2 separate regions of the Homo sapiens genome follow, and region 1 is linked to region 2. A link means that fine-mapping ties the variant in region 2 to the expression of a gene that starts in the linked region. Tissue or cell type: whole blood. Region 2 holds a variant in brackets; the other region holds the start of a gene. All regions are shown on one strand. Distances are between the middles of the regions.

Region 1 (8,105 bases), 130 kb before region 2:
TTTTATTTTACTTTTTAATATTTATTTATTTATTTACTTATTTTTGAGAGAGAGTCTTGCTCTGTTTGCCCAGGCTGGAGTGCAGTGGCGTGATCTTGGCTCACTGCAACCTCTGCCTTCCGGGTTCAAGCAATTCTCCTGCCTCAGCCTCCCGAGTACCTGGGACTACAGGTGACTGCCACCACGCCCAACTAATTTTTTGTATTTTTAGTAGAGATGAAGTTTCACCATGTTGACCAGGCTAGTCTCGAACTCCCGACCTCAGGTGATCTGCCCGTCTCAATCTCCCAAAATGCTGGGATTACAGGTGTGAGCCACCATGCCTGGTCCGGGTCTCTTTTATAAGGGCGCTAGTTCCATTTGTGAGGGCTCTGCCCTCATAACCTAATCACCTCCTCCAGATGCCCCACCTCCAAATACCATCATCTTGGGGGTTAGGAATTCATTGTACGAATTTTGGGGGGATACAACATGCAGACCATAGCAGGAAGCTGTGGGTGGAGGGCCCAGAACTGAGATACTGTCCAGAGGGAAAGTGGGTATCTGTACTTCTCAAAAAAACCAAAACCAACCTGTCAAGGCAGGGACCCCAGAGAAAATGGGAGGAGAAGCCTCACATGTATAGACTGGGAGGACAGGATCATCTCCAAAGTAATGCCCCAGCCTCTGCCTCTCACTTATAGGTCAGAGGGTCCTAAGTGATAAGAGAGAACCTTGGTGGAGGCTGCTCCACAATGGCCCCCATCCTGGAATTTTACCAGGAGCACCCTTGCTTGCCCACTCATCTGTCTCAGACGCCCAGGAAATTTTTGCACGTGTCATATCATCTGTGCTTATCTCAGTGTTGAGATAACCTTTTCCCTTGTTTTCTCCTTAATTTGGTTTTCCAGTTCTCTGCAAAAGAGAACTGCGGAGTGGGGACTGGACAACCTCTGAAAGAGCGCCTTCTGCTTTTGTGGAGTGCAGTGGCGTGATCTCGGCTCACTGTAAGCTCCGCCTCCTGGGTTCACACCATTCTCCGGCCTCAGCCTCCTGAGTGGCTGGGACTACAGGCGCCCGTCATCGCGTGCCCGCCTAATTTTGTTTTTGTATTTTTAGTAGAGATGGAGTTTCACCATGTTAGCCAGGATGGTCTTGATCTCCTGACCTGTGATCCGCCCGCCTCGGCCTCCCAAGGTGCTGGGATTACAGGCGTGAGCCACCACGCCCAGCCCCGGTTAATTTGTTTTGTGTTTTTAGTAGAGACAAGGTTCCACTGTGCTAGCCAAGATGGTCTTGGTCTCCTGACCTCATGATCCGCCCGCCTAGGCCTCCCAAAGTGCTGGGATTACAGGCGTGAACCACCGCACCAGGCTGTTCTTAGTTCTTAAGTAATGTTGACATATGGGTGATGATGAAGGAGATGATTAAAGCTTTCAAAGAAAGTGGAAGAATGTGTCAAATTCTCTCTTCACTTCCTAGATGACTTCAGTTTCCTAATCCATAAAATAGGACTAAGACCATTACTTATCTGATGAAAAGGAGAGACAATGTAATAAATAAGGTGCTTTGAATCCTGTATTAGTCCATTGTCACACTACTGAGAAAATTATAAATTACCTGAGACTGGGTAATTTATAAACAAAAGAGGTTTAATTGACTCACAGTTCCATATGGCTGGGGAGGCCTCAGGAAACTTATAATCATGGTGGAAGGTGAAGGGGAAGCAGGGCACATCTTACATGGCGGCAGGTGAGAGAGAGAATGCAGGGGAAATGCCAGACACTTATCAAACAACCAGATCCCGTGAGAGCTCCCTATCACAAAAACATCATGGGGGAAACCGCCCCCCACGATCCAATCACCTCCCAGGAGGTCCCTCCCCTGACACATGTGGATTACAATTCAAGATGAGATTTTTGGGTGGGGACACAGAGCCAAACCATGTCAGATCTCCAAATGGTAGCTATTATTTAGATGTCCTTTTCTTCTGTCTTGTTACAGTCACTGACACAGTTCAGGCTCTTATTATATCTCCATTGATGTCAGCTTCCAATCTAGTCTCTTGCATTCTCTGCTTCTGCCATCTATTTTCCAGTGTGGTGCCAGAGGAATCCTTGTAAAATACAAAGATGCATGTCATGCTACTGCACAGAATCTTTTAATAGCCTCCTTTTTTTTTTTCCCTTTTTCGAATAGGGCCTAAAATCTTCAATGTAGCATCCTTCCAGAAATAGTCTTCTGAACTTGGCTGCTTCTATTCATTCACGCATACATACATTTTACTGTCAGGAGCACCTTCTATATGCCAAACACTAAGCTACGTGTTTCACGTAGGTCATTTCACAGGATCCTGAAAACAACGCTTTCCTTAATATCTCCATTTTGCAGAAGAGGAAAGGGAGGCTCACAGGATGTGGAACTCACCCAAGAAGGCACAGCGAGTTGGTCATAAAGATTTGAATTCACTCTGGCTGGCACTCCCTTCAATTGGAGCTCTTTGTACTGAGCAAAAATGCCTCAGGGGCAGCAGGGAAGGGAATGACAGTATCAGCAGAAGGGAGCCAGGATCAGGACAGGGAGGAAGCAGTGTTTGGAAGAAGGGTGCTGGGGACAGGGTGCGGATGTAACTTCCCTTTCCAAGGTTGGTGATGTGGGGTAGGCACCTCATTTGGAGACAGAACTCTGGGCCTGGGCTTCAGGCACTTTAAGTGTGCACTGGACTTTGTGTTCCCAGAGGACCCCCAAACCTTCCAGTATCTCCTTCCTTTCCCCTTTCCCACCCAGCACACAGCCTGGTGCCTAGTGTGCACTCAGTAGACAACTGGGATATGACTATTGCCTCTGGTAGTCACATCCTCTCTTTGGGCTATGGGAGGCTGGACTGGAGGCCTTAAAGGCCCCTTCCGCCCTCCTGTTGGGCAGTTTTTCTTTCTTAGGGAAATCGCCTTGGGGCTATCGGGGATGGTCAGTACGCAGCTTGGTTAATCCTCTTTCCTTCCCCAGCAGCCCCACCGTCGTCCGGGTGAAAAGAAAGAACCTCGCTCCCTTCACCATCCAGGCTGAGGCTTCAGTCTTTCAGCCTGCAGCTTGGGGTGGAAGCCTCTGGGTGCAGGGGTTCGAGGACGCTCCTCTCCTTCTGTATTTGCCATTTGAGAGCGCCCAGTAGGAGTCATGCCTCAATGTTAGGAGGTTAATGCCAAACGCAGTGAAAGATTTTGTTCTTTCCTATTCTAGATAAGAGCAACACGAGTCTTCGGAGAGGTTAAGCGACTTCCTCAGGGTCTCGCAGTCAGCCGGTAGCAGAGACCGGGTGTACAGCACCCGCATGTTAGGACCAAAAGCCGGACACTGCTGGATTGACCCCTCGCGGCCAAGCGGGGAAGAGGCATTTAGGGGTCCTTGCGCAGCCGCGTGGCCCCTCCCACTCGGCCCTCGATCCACCCTCCTTGAGAGCAGGCAGGATTCTAGCATCACCCAGTGCCTTCATCAAGAGTCTTTAACCCCAAGCCCGCTCGCTAGCGACCTCCAGGCCGGTTTGGGGCGCGGTGTGGCCGGTGGCGAGAGGTGGAGTGGGGGCGGAGACCGACCCAGTCTTCGCAACTCTATTTGCATACGGAGGCGACTCGCTTCCTTCCCGCCCCTCCGCCGCGCTCTTCTTCCTTCCTTCTCCAGTCCCTTCCACTGTGCGTCTTCTGTCCCCCGTTCTTCCCCAGCGGACCCCTCTTTCGAGACTCCCTAGTGGGGTCCCCAGCTCCCGGGCGATCCTGCCCTTGCCGAGCGCGTTTTCTGGAGTCACCTGGGGGAGGGGAGTCCTGGGCAGGGCCGGGCTGGGGAAGACGCCTGGGGCACTGCCCGGCGTTAACAAAGGGAGCCGATACCGACCGGCGTGGGCGCGGAGCGGGCGGCCGCCACCGAGCGTGCTGAGCAACCGCAGCCTCCGCGGCCGAGAGTGCAGCGAGTGAGTAGGGGGTGCGGTGGGCGGCGGCGCGGCCCGGGCTATCCCGGGAGGAGTGTGATGCAAAGGGGCGCGGGAGGATAGCGGAGGCGCGGGGCCCGCGGCGCGCGTAGGGCGCAGGGAATCTCTCTCCAGCTCCGCCTCAGCTGCCTTGGCTCCGGGGCTGGCCGCCTTTTGGTTGGGGGTGTGTGCATTTTTGTCAGGGCCAAAGGGCCACCCTGGCTTCTCTCTGGCTCCGCGAGCCTGCGGATCCACAACAAACCCACGTGCGCACAGCCCCGGGGAACACGGATTTCTCCACGGCACCGTCAGTATGGGGTGGGGTGGCGTGGGGGCATTGCGCCTTGCAGAGTCTGGGTTTACGGATCGACAAATTGAGGCCCGCGGCAGCGGAGGGGGCACAGGCACCATAACAAACGCACGTGCGCCCTGCCCGGAGAGCTGGACGCACTGCATACCCTTAGGGGCCGCCCTGCGGTGCCGGGCCATTGTCTCAGCCTCGGGGGAGGGAGTGGCTCTAGAGGCGCCACTTGCTGGAAGAGGGCGAGAGAGACATTTAAAAGGTACCGCTTGGGCATCAGACTAAACTGCCAGACTTAAAAAGGGAAACCAAAACAAGAAAGCAGCTACAAAAAGGTTACTCCAGGCTGAGTCGGTCCCCGGCCGTGGCGCATTCTTTTGGGTGAAGTGGACCACCCCTCACCTTCACCTCCTGGAGGTCTCTTAGAGATGTGGGTTGGGTTAAGGGTCTAAGGGTGCCCCTCAAAAAAAGAGAGTGCTGGGTGCACTATTGTCCCCGCACTCCGGCGATTGCCTCTGTGGGGATATTTTGGTCGCCTCCTCAGCCTGCGGGAAGAATGTACGAGTCGCCCAGTGCGGTCTTGCTCTTTGCCTCTGAGGCCCGTGTCCGTGTGCCCAGACACCCCAGATGTCACTAGCCCCTTTTGGCTTGTTAATGCATTTTCGCAAGCAAGGCCAGCCGAGACCTCGTATTCTAGCTGGGGACGTACAATTTTCAGTTCTGAGTTTATTTGAAAGAAATTCCGAGGTCCGGAAAAAGAGAACTCTTGTTTGTTTTGCTTTTTCTTTGCTTACATATGCTCAGCTCAGCTTTGCAGATGTTAATCGGACACGATCTGCAGCGGGGAGATGGTTTCGCGGTGAATTGGTCTCTGAGGCGATGGTGTTGGTGCAGGTTGTGGGCGTGCAGTGTGAGCAGGAATGGAGGCGCCGCCGCCCCAGTGTGTGCCTGCTGAGCGGGCGGGCTGCTGCCTCACCTTGGCTAGTGTGGCTGAAGATTAACCTGTCCCCGGGGGGGGAACTGGAGAGCCTCCAATCCTATTCCGCTGTTATTGAAAAGGTCTAGAGAGCATCTAGGGAGCCTTCTCATTTTACAGGCAGGAAGCTGAGGCCGGAGAGTTCAGCCACTTGTCCAAGTTTAAACCGGGTGAAACGGGCCACAGAGAGAACACTTGAGTGTGGGTCTCCCAACTCCCACTGCATCGCTCAGCGGGCAACTAAAGGCAAAACCGGGATTCTGTGATTGGCCTAAAAGGCAGTGGCCTTAGGCAGAATAGGGTGAAACAAAGAGTAATTCAAATAGAAAGCTGCACCCTTCCATTATCCCTTTCAAGAATTCTTTATTCTGTTGAGAAAAAATAGATTTAGTAATTCCTTACTCTCCTTCAAGCCTTTCAAAAGCTTAGTTATTTTTCTCTCCTGGCTGCCCCTTCCCCTCAAATTGGAATAAGGCCAGCTACGGAGACTCAGATGTTTTGCCTCTCATCCTTGTGCCAGGAGGCCTTTGTTTGGGCAAAAGCATGGGCTGTTGACATCAGCCCCACGGGGAAGAAAGTGTGTCTTAGCAAGCTACTCCTGAGCCACTTGTGGGAGAACAAAGCATTGTTTTCACTGATCTTATTAAAGTTACTTTTTTTTTAACGAGAGTCCCATGGAAGTAGCTGCTTATTTTTGTATTTGGCAGAGAAGTAGGAAAACCAAAAAAACACTGAGAAGCCGGATTTCCCCAAAGTTAACATGTTGTTTTGCACTGTGCCTGTTATCTCCTAGTTACACTTGTTTCTTTTCCTTAGAGTTTCCAGCGTGTTTCACTTTCAATGTGATTCTGGTAGCAACAGGAGGCAGCTGGATGCCTAGGCAGATAGGGTCAGGTACCCGGTGAAACCCCCACCTCCAGGCCAAAGACAGTTTAAAGCCTGAAAGCCAAGCTACGAGTTAAATCCTCAGACCAGAGTGAGAACTTGTTTGGCGTGCTTTCCCCTAATTGATTCCTACATTTCGCCTGTTTTACATATACCCACTTTTTCCTAATTGGTTTTCTACGCTGCCGTGCCCACCTTTGAGTGGTGTCTTTGCTTTCATCTTTTTTGCATACTCACAAACCGGTCAGCATGCACTCCCTATTCTGAGTCCATAAAAGGCCCCTGACCCAGCCACATTGGGGAACTTTTCCGTCTTCAGGTAGGGGACCAACCCGGTGTCCCCTCTCTGCTGAAAGCTGTTTTCAACACTCAATAAAATTCTTATCTGCCTTCCTCTCCCTTCAATGTCCAGTGTATCCTCATTATCCTTTGGTGTGGTGCACGAGCTCGGAACCACCGAACGCGGGTACAAGCTATAATACAGTGAGCTGGGACACACCTGCATGGCCGAGCGAGCACAGGTGGGGCATTGCTGGCCCGAGGACCAAGAAGAAAAATCCTACATCAATTCCTCTTGGCACTGCAGTATAGTTTTCTCACCAGGACGCTGACCCTGTAAGGAACTTCAGAAATCATGTGACTGGACCCTTTTACTTTCCAGATGGGAAAAGTGAGGCCTAGAGAAGAGAAATTGCTTGCCTAATGATACACAACAATGCGTGGTCTACTTTTAGTGCACCTTTTTGCGTAAAAGGGAAATGGTTGCATCAAACCAGTAGTTGTTGGTACTCCAGAGAAAAGCCAAAGTTATGGTTGTTATAACAACACCCTTTAAGTCAGAGAACCAATTCCTTATGGATTTAAATAGGTTTGGTTATTAAGCAAAGCCAGGGATCCCAGTAGTAGGTATGCTGAATAGTGCAATTATCTCTGGGGATCAGCTTTCTTTAGTGTTTGCTGAACGGTTCACTTTACTCTTGTGCTGGGTTCCTCCATGTCTCTGTCTTGTGCTTCCCCATTTAGGGGCTGCTTTGTATGAAATCATAAGGCAAGAGGCAGTGAGAAGACAGAAGAGAGAGGCGCCACTTAGCTGTTCATGCTACTTAACCTCTTGGGCTCCAGTTTCCTTCTTTGTACAGTGAGGGTTCTCCTTGCCCAGTCTCTGCACAGGCTGTTCCAGCGGAGCGGAAGATGCTCAGGCCATAGGAGGGGTTTGGGGTCATCTTCCTGTCTCTAGTATTACTTTAAAACCAGCAGGCTGGGCCAGGTGTGGTGGCTCACTCCAGTAATCACAGCACTTCAGGAGGCCGAGGAGGGAAGAGTTCGAATTCCTTGAGCTCAGGAGTTTGAGACCAGCCTGAGCAACATAGTGAGACTACCTCCCCCACCGCCATCTCTACAAAAAATAAAAGAACAAAATTAGCTGGGCATGGTGGCGTACTCCTGTGGTCCCAGCTACCTGGGAGGCTGAGACAGGAGAATCGCTGGAGCCTGGGAGGTGGAGGTTGCAGTGAGCCGCGATCTCACCACTGTACTCCAGCCTGGGGACATAGCGAGACCCTGTCTCAAAAACAGAAAATAAAACAAAACAACAACAACAGAAAACCAGCAGGCTGCCTCTGCGTTGTGTAAAGTGAGGGGAGTAAGGCGTATGAATCTCCTGGGGTTGTTGAGGGCATTAAGTCACATGATGCATTCTTATGACTGGTCAGACCTCTTGGCAGGCTTGAGTGCTTACCAGCTTTTAAAAAATTTTATTTATTTATGTATTTATTTATTTATTTATTTTTTCAGATGGCGTCTCGCTCTGTCACCCAGGCTGGAGTGCAGTGGTGCAATCTCGGCTCACTGCAAGCTCCGCCTCCCGGGTTCACGCCATTCTCCTGCCTCAGCCTCCCGAGTAGCTGGGACTACAGGTGCCCGCCACCACGCCCGGCTAATTTTTGTATGTTTAGTAAAGACGGGGTTTCACCTTGTTAGCCAGGATGGTCTCGATCAAAAATTTT
Region 2 (8,105 bases):
AGCTATCCTAAAATTTATATGAAACCTCAAGGGACCCCGATTAACCAAACAATCCTGAAAAATAAGAATAAAGCTGGAGTTCTCTCACTTCTTGATTTCAAAAAATACATATGTTACAATAATCGAGAGAGTGAGGTACAAAGACAAACATATAAACCATTGGAATAGAATAAAAGTCCAGAAATAAAGTCTTGTATATATGTGTAAATGATTTTTGATGAGTGTGTCAGGATCGTTCAATGAGGAAAAGACAGTCTTTTTAAGAAATGATACTGGGAAAACTGGCTATCCACATGCAAAAGAATAAAGTTGGACCCTTACCTAACACCAAAAATAAAAATTAACTCAAAATGGATCTATGACCTAAATGTAGACCAAAAACTATAAAACTCTTAGAAGACAACATAGGGCAAAAACTTTATGACATCAGATTTGGCAATGATTTCGTCATTATTACACCAAAGGCATACATACGTAACAAAGGAAAAAATATACAAGTTGGACTTTATGAAAATTAAAAATAATTGTATATCAAAAGATACTCTCAACAGAGTAAAAAGACACCACACATAATAGGAGAAAATATTTGCAAGTCATCTATCTGATAAGGGATTAATGTACAGAATATATAGAACACTCTTCAAACAACAATAAAAAAAATCAAATTACCCAATTTAAAAATAGGCAAAGGACTTGAATGGACGTTTCTCCAAGATATACAAATGGTTAGTAAGCACATGAAAAGAGACTCAACTCTTTTTTGCTAGGGAAATGCAACCCAAGAATACAACACAGCACCACCTCACCCCCATTAGGGTGGCTTCTATGATCAGAAATCGGAATCCGTGGGCACTGTTGATGGGAATGGAAAATGGTCAGCCACTGTGGAAAACAGTACGGCAGTGCCTCAAAAACTTAAAAATGGAATTACCGTGTAATCTAATAATCTTATTTATTGGCGTATATGTACAGAAATTGAAAGAAGGGTCTTGAAGAGATATTCATACCCCCATATTCAGACTACTCTTATTCACAATAGCTGGACTGCAGAAGGAACCCAAGTGTCTGTTGATGTTGAATGGATACACAAAAGCTGGTTTATACATACAATAAAATATTATTCTAAAAAAGGAAGAAAATACCGAGATTGGCTACAACATGGATGAACCCTGAAGACATTATGCCAAGTGAAATAAGCCAGTCACACACACACACACACACACACACACACACAAAATACTATATGAATGTGGTTGCCAGGGAATGTGAGGTGGGAGGGGGAATGGGGAGTTACTGTTTAATGAGTATAGAGTTTCAATTTTGCAAGACTGAAAAAGTTTTGGAGATGGTTTGTGGTGATAGTTGCACAACAATACAAATGTACTTAATATCACTGAACTGTACACTTAAAAATGGTTAAGATAGTCAATGTTATGTTATATGTATTTTAATACAATTTTTAAATTGGAAAAAATGTCAGTAGGGGAGACAGTCACAGAAGTACAAACACTGTATGATTCCACTTTATATGGAACACCTGGAGTAGAAACAAAGTAGAATGATGTTTGCCAAGGGCTAGGAGGAGAAAGGAATGTGGAATTGTTGTTTAATGAATACTGTGATTCATTTTGGGAAGCTGAAAAAGTTCTGGAGATGGTGGTGATAGTTACACAACAATAGGAATGTACTAAGCTGAATACTTAAAGTTGCTAAAATGGTCAATTTTATGTTATGTATATTTTAAAAGCTTTCTTTTAAATCAACAGGGAGAAACCAGTTGATAGAGGGAGAAAGTGAATATACTAAAAAGAGGAGAAAATGATTAGTTACCCACAACATGATGGTGGTGGAGCCAAAGCGTAGTGGAGGATGAACCCCAGCAGGCGGGAGTCAGAGGGAAGAAGGTGCGAGTGGTGTAGCTGGAGGCAGTCAGTATTAGAAGGATGAGAGGGCTTCTATTTTCTCTGCAAAGTGGCATGCAAGGCCAAGTCAGAAGGAGGCTGAGGGGGAAAGAGGTTTTAGTAGAGAAGGTTTGAACAAAGAGATTTATAATTGTCATTGAGGTGAGTGGGACCGTCAGTAAACCTGATGAATGGAGTAGGATTTCCAGGCCATGCTGGGCTACTTTGAGGTTGAAGAGAATGAATTTAGAGAGAAACCAATCTCTGTTTGATACATGGATGGTAGGATCTGGAGGTGAGCAGGCAGCAGCAAAGAGGAGAGGGGAGAGGGGAGGAGCCCTCCCTGAGCACTCTCTTGGACTGCGGAGGCTACCTACTCTCTGAGCACTTCTTCGTGATGATTCAGTCTTCCTCACTGTGAAGAACGAAACCCCAGTCCTGCAAAGATTTGAAACTGTATTTAAGGCCAAAGTAAGGTTGCCTGGGAATTAAGAGTACTGGAGTCAGGCAGGCTTTGATCAGATCCCTCCCCCAACACTTCCTGTGTGAGTGACTTCAGCAAGTTGCTTTACTTTACCTTTCTGAGCCTCATTTCCCTTACTTGTAACACAGAAATATGAATAGTTACTATCCAGGGTTTTTTTTTAGGATCAAAGGAGTTACTATGTGTGGAGCATGTCACCCAGAGGCTGGTATGCAGCAAGTGCTTTGTAAATAGTAGCGATGGGCACTACTGAAACCTGAATGTCTGCCTCTGCCTGTTTGCGAATGACTCCACCTTCCCAAATCCCAACAGGGAAGGTGAGTCAGCTTGAGACCACTTGAGAGGCATCTAGCAGAAGGGAGGCAAAACTTCTGTTAAAGGATAATTTTTAGGGAAAAAAAGGTAAGATGATGACTCTCATACAGATATTAAAAATGAATTCATCATGAAGATTTTATTTTACTCGTATGATGGAACCAGGCAGATATTACAACTGGTTCAAAGGAAAAGTCAAAGCAACACAAATTTGGAGTAAAGGAGTTGAACTAGTTTTTCTGTGAGATAAGGCAGGGGGAGGGGAGAAATCAATTGAAACTCTCCTGGGCAGCATCCTGCCCAGTAGGCACATGTATTAGTTGCCTACAATTCACAAAGGGTTGCGAAATAGCTCCCGTGGAATCAGAATCTGACAGGGAGGAAGAGTGTGCTCAGAAAATGCATGGCTTTCTACTGAAGCAG[A/AT]TTTTTTTCCCATTACACTTCTAGATCTCTGTGCACCATTGTGCCAGGGCTGCGAGGAAGGTGGCCCACTTCCCGGGATACACTACCCACCCTCAAGAGAGCCTTTCCTGCTGCTTCTTAGGCAAGTCAGCTCTCTTTTCTCACCTCCTGTAAGCAACACTAAGTATCTGGCTGTTCCTTTCGTACTCGAGTCCTGGCCGCTCCATGACAGCACTTGTGGTGGTACTGAACTGTGATGGACACTTTCTATCATTGCCCTTTCTTACCTTGATATCCTAAAAAGCTGGTGGTCTGTCTTCTCTATCTTTTGTCCTGGTCAGTTATCCTAACTATTTTGTGTCTGTTTCTGTGGATTAGTAAACGGGGTCCCCACCCCCACTCCACAAGGAGAACATCTGGCACCCAGAAGTCACTGAGAGAATAGCTGTTGCTTTGGTAGAATTCTGCCTCTGAGTGGCTTGTTCTTTTCCCAGACGGAGAGGTCTCCTGACAGCAGCTCTCTTCTTTTTCTTTTTTTTTTTTTTTGAGACAGAGTTTTGCTCTTGCGCTCAGGCTGGAGTGCAGTGGTGCACTCTCGGCTCCCTGCTCTGCCTCCTGGGTTCAAGTGATTCCCCTGCCTCGGTCTCCCAAGTAGCTGAGATTACAGGCATGCACCACCATGCCCAGCTAATTTTTTGTATTTTTAGTAGAGACAGGGTTTTGCCATGTTTGCCAGACTAGTCTCAAACTCCTGACCTCAGGTGATCCACCTGCCTCAGCCTCCCAAAGTGCTGGGATTACAGGCATGAGCCACTGCGCCTGGCTTTAGCAGCTCTCTTCTAAAGCCATCTGGACCCACATTTGTTCAGCTCCCCTCCCTTGGCCATGATGAAGGCATGCAAAACAAAAAAGGCACTTTTCTTATTGAGAAGGTGGCTTTTTATAGAGAATGGTGTCATACTGTTAGGTTTCAGGCCAGCAGACCTAGTCAGGCATGTGACACTTCTGTGCCAGGTGTGGCTATGAGAGTCAACAGGAAAAATGATATATGTAAATGGACAGGTCTTTAAATAAATGCAGTTTTGACTATAAGAGTAAGAAGGTTTCTGTGAGACTCAACTCAGTACCTCCTGTACCCTGTGGGCCTGAGAGAGGAGACAATGGGACAAGAAGACCCAGTGGCTTCCTTGGAAGCTTTTGTGCTAGCTGGAGAGAGAAGACCTACTTCCTATATGCCTAGCAACAGTCCACACTGACTGGACTGCAACCAGGACATTTCCAGATTACTCAGTGGGGCTTATCTTGAAATAATAGTTGATGCCATTTGTTAAATATATTATATATACCATCTAAGGGTCTTACATGCCTTCTCTCATTTGATCTTCATGGCAAACCCTGTGAGGTATGACCACCAACCACCATTTTACCTCAGAACTCAGGCTCCCAGAGTTTAAGTTGCTCACAGGAGCCCAGAAAGTAAGCGACAGAGGTGGGATTTGGTTCTAGGTGTTTGCCACCAGCACTTTAAATCACCAAAGCTTTCTGGAAGCTCCAACTTTTCTTCTCAAGATACTGAAAGACAGGTATCTGGATGGGTTGGCAGGGCGGGTGGGAGGTGGGCGAGATTTCCATCAACAACGGGTCTAAAACCAGCGATGGTGAGCTGGGTGATTTTGATGGAACCCCTGCCATACAGTCTATTAATATCATAATTGGAGCTAAAATTTAATCATGATGGCAATCATGAGTTCTGGGGCTTCTTGATTTGGGCCAGCAGACACAGTCTCAGTCACTAGTTCTCCGAATCAGAGAAAGGATGCCTTCAGGCTGTGTCTTCACATGGCTTTTCCTCTGTGCGTGGTGGAAAGAGAGAGCTCTGCGGGTCTCTTCTTGTTGTAAGGACACTGGCCCCATTGGATTAGGGCCCCACCACATGACACATTTAATCCTAATTACCTCCCTCACAGCCCTATTTCCAAACAGGGTATTAGTCACATTAGGGATTAGGGCTTCAACATAGGAATTCTGGGGGCACACAATTCAGTCTATAACAGAGGGAAAACAGATTTGAGAAGAAAAAAGTCCAAAATATGCACAGTGGTAATATCTGAAGATGTGCGTGCGTGCGTGTGTGTGTGTGTGTGTGTGTGTGTGTGTTTCTATTCTTGCATTTTCTAACTGTCCCCAGTGAGTATTTGTTACTTTCTAACTGAGAAGGTTACTTTAAACAGTGTCTTGAGCAGCAGCACTCCATGCCCTGGTGTAGCCTTTTCCTGGCAGATGTTCCCCAGGGCTCTGCTGCTCTGCCAATGACTTATTCTCAGCATGAACTCCTCCCCTGCCCCCTAAGAGGATCTCCAAACCCAGGTCACACTCCCCCTGCAGGTAAGTACAGGCGTTTGAGAACAGCTTTATTCTTCCAGGAACAGCTGGTCCCCTCAGCAGGGCCTTACAAGGTGGTTATGTCTAAATAAGGCACCTGAGGCCAGGAGATGTGACATGGTCCATCTAATACCATGGAGTGAGTTAGACACAGAGCAGGACTGGAACCCATGCTTCCAATTCCCCATCCAGTTTTAAGGCAATCTTCTTTTCTTTCTTTCTTTCTTTTTTTTTTTTTTTTTTTTTTTTTTGGAGACAGAGTCTCTGTCACCCAGGCTGGAGTGCAGTGGTGCGATCTTGGCTCACTGCAACCTCTGCCTCCGGGGTTCAAGCGATTCTCCTGCCTCAGCCTTCTGAGTAGCTGAGATTTCAGGTGCCCGCCACCACGCCTGGCTAATTTTTGTATTTTTAGTAGAGACGAGGTTTTACTATGTTGGCCAGGGTGATCTCGAACTCCTGACCTCAAGTGATCTGCCCACCTCAGCTTCCCAAAGTGCTGGGATTACAGGTGTGAGCCACTGCACCTGGCAAGGCAACCTTTTTTTTTTTTTTTTTTTTTGGTAGAAAATCTTTGAACTTCATATAGATGGTGTTAATGTGGGTGAGTTCAGAGCCATGTGTAAAGTTCCAGGAGGGGAGTGCTTGCTGGCTTCTCCCTTATCCCTCAACCAGATCCCAGCCCCAGCCACTTTCTGTTTCTCTTCTCTGGATAAAACTATCATTCATCTTCACCTGTTTCTATTTTCATGGATTACTGTCTCATTCATCTCAAGTAGCTCAAGTGAATGGCTGTTTTTCCATTGGATACAGGAAGACTGAGGGTGACCTGACCCTCATGGTGTGCTTGCTTATTTGAATGTCTGATGGTTTTATGGGTGTAGTCCTGCTGGAGCAGAAAGAATATCTGTTAGGAGCCTGCCTCTGGGCTCTGGTTCTAACTGTGCCACAAACTCATCGTAGCCTTAGACAATTCTCTTGTCTCTCTGGGCCTCAGTTTACCCATCTGGAAAATGATGGGTCTGAATTTAATACCTTGAGTATCATCCAGCTGTGACATACTACAACTCAGGCAAGAAGCAAATTCTCCTGACACTCCATACTCCTATCCAGTGTTCTCTGACGTCCTTCCCCAAGAGCTGTGGTACCCTACCCTGCCCACATTATGTGAGGCATTATAGCACATAGGTTAGAAGTGTGGTCTCTGGGCCGGGTGTGGTGGCTCATGCCTGTAATCCCAACACTTTGGGAGGCCGAGGCAGGTGGATCACGAGGTCAGGAGATCAAGACCATCCTGGCTAACACAGTGAAACCCCATCTCTACTAAAAATACAAAAAATTAGCTGGGTGTGGTGGCACATGTCTGTCGTACCAGCTACTTGGGAGGCTGAGGCAGGAGAATCACTTGAACCTGGGTGGCGGAGGTTGCAGTGAGCCAAGATCGTGCCACTGCACTCCAGCCTGGGCAACAGAGCGAGACTCCATCTCAAAAAAAAAAAAAAAAAAGAAGTGTGGTCTCTGGAGCTAGACCTAAGAATCCAATTCAGACTCTCTTACTTACTGACTGTGTAATTTGGACAAGTTACTTAGCATTTAGCATCTCTATTTCTTTAATCATAAAATGAACATATTAACACTTACTTCCTAGGGCTGTTGTGAAGATAAACTGAGTTGAGGTATGACAGTACCTAGCATGTAGTAAGCATCATTAAATGGTGTCTGTTGTTTTCACATATTGTAAAGAAGAAAGCTTCGTGCATCTCTTGGAATTTCTGAGGACGGTGAAGCCACAGCTGGGAAAGTCTCAGGGAGCCAGGAGTTGCTGGCCTCCTGCTTTGCATACTCAAAATTGCTGGAAAGGGGCTATAGCAGGGGGAGACATTTTTTAAAAATCCCAGTTATTGCTATTCCTCATGAGTATGTATATATCACCTGGCATCAGTACTCTGCATAGAAAGAAGCATAGCTAAAGAAAAGACACTTTGCTTTTAATATAACAGCTGTTTTCAGGGGAATAGGGTGGATGAGGATAGGGAGTACTGGCCCTCTGTCCTCAGGCCTCCCTGTCACCAGCTCAGTCACGTCTATCTTACAAATCCCCATCTAGCAGGAAGCCTGCTCTGCCCTTGGACTATAGACCTGAAGGGCTGTTGTTAAGTTACAACGTTCCCAGTGGAAGGAGGACAGTACTTAAAAGTTACAAGATGTGGGTTCTGTTCTTAGTTCTTATGGCCTGTCAGCCAGGGAACTCCTGGCCAGTAGTCTCATCCTTGAACTTCTTCTTTTTTTTTTTTTTTCTCAAGACGGAGTCTCGCTCTGTCGCCAGGCTAGAGTGCAGTGGCACGATCTTGGCTCACTGCAACCTCTGCCTCCTGAGTTCAAGCTATTCGCCTGCCTCAGCCTTCCAAGTAGCTGGGATTACAGGTGCTTGCCACCACGCCTGGCTAATTTTTGTATTTTTGGTAGAGACAGGGTTTCGCCATGTTGGCCAGGCTGGTCTTGAACTCCTGACCTCAAGTGAGCCCAGCCCTCATCCTTGAACTTCAAATTTCCACCCCACCTTACTCCCACAGGCATATACCAGTTGTTCCTTTTTCTCTGTTCTTATGCAGGAAATGGCCTGA

Evidence for each region. PIP is the estimated chance that this variant, and not a neighbour inherited with it, causes the effect.
Region 1: it holds the start of ST6GAL1, and the variant in region 2 is fine-mapped to the expression of ST6GAL1 in whole blood (TOPMed, PIP above 0.99).

Annotation. Positions count from the first base shown.
Region 1 is chr3:186,926,895-186,934,999 of GRCh38, forward strand. ST6GAL1 (ST6 beta-galactoside alpha-2,6-sialyltransferase 1) reads left to right here and starts at 3,632. Exons shown (of 8, transcript NM_173216.2): 1 at 3,632-3,940. RefSeq lists enhancers at 3,247-3,855, 5,949-5,998, 6,019-6,078 and silencers at 3,543-3,622, 3,863-4,052.
Region 2 is chr3:187,061,373-187,069,477 of GRCh38, forward strand. All of the region lies in intron 5 of ST6GAL1 (ST6 beta-galactoside alpha-2,6-sialyltransferase 1), which reads left to right. Among named protein-coding and RNA genes, the nearest start is that of RPL39L, 74 kb to the right of the region's middle. RefSeq lists an enhancer at 4,262-4,441 and a silencer at 5,389-5,438. The variant A/AT (reference allele first, on the strand shown) is at 3,124.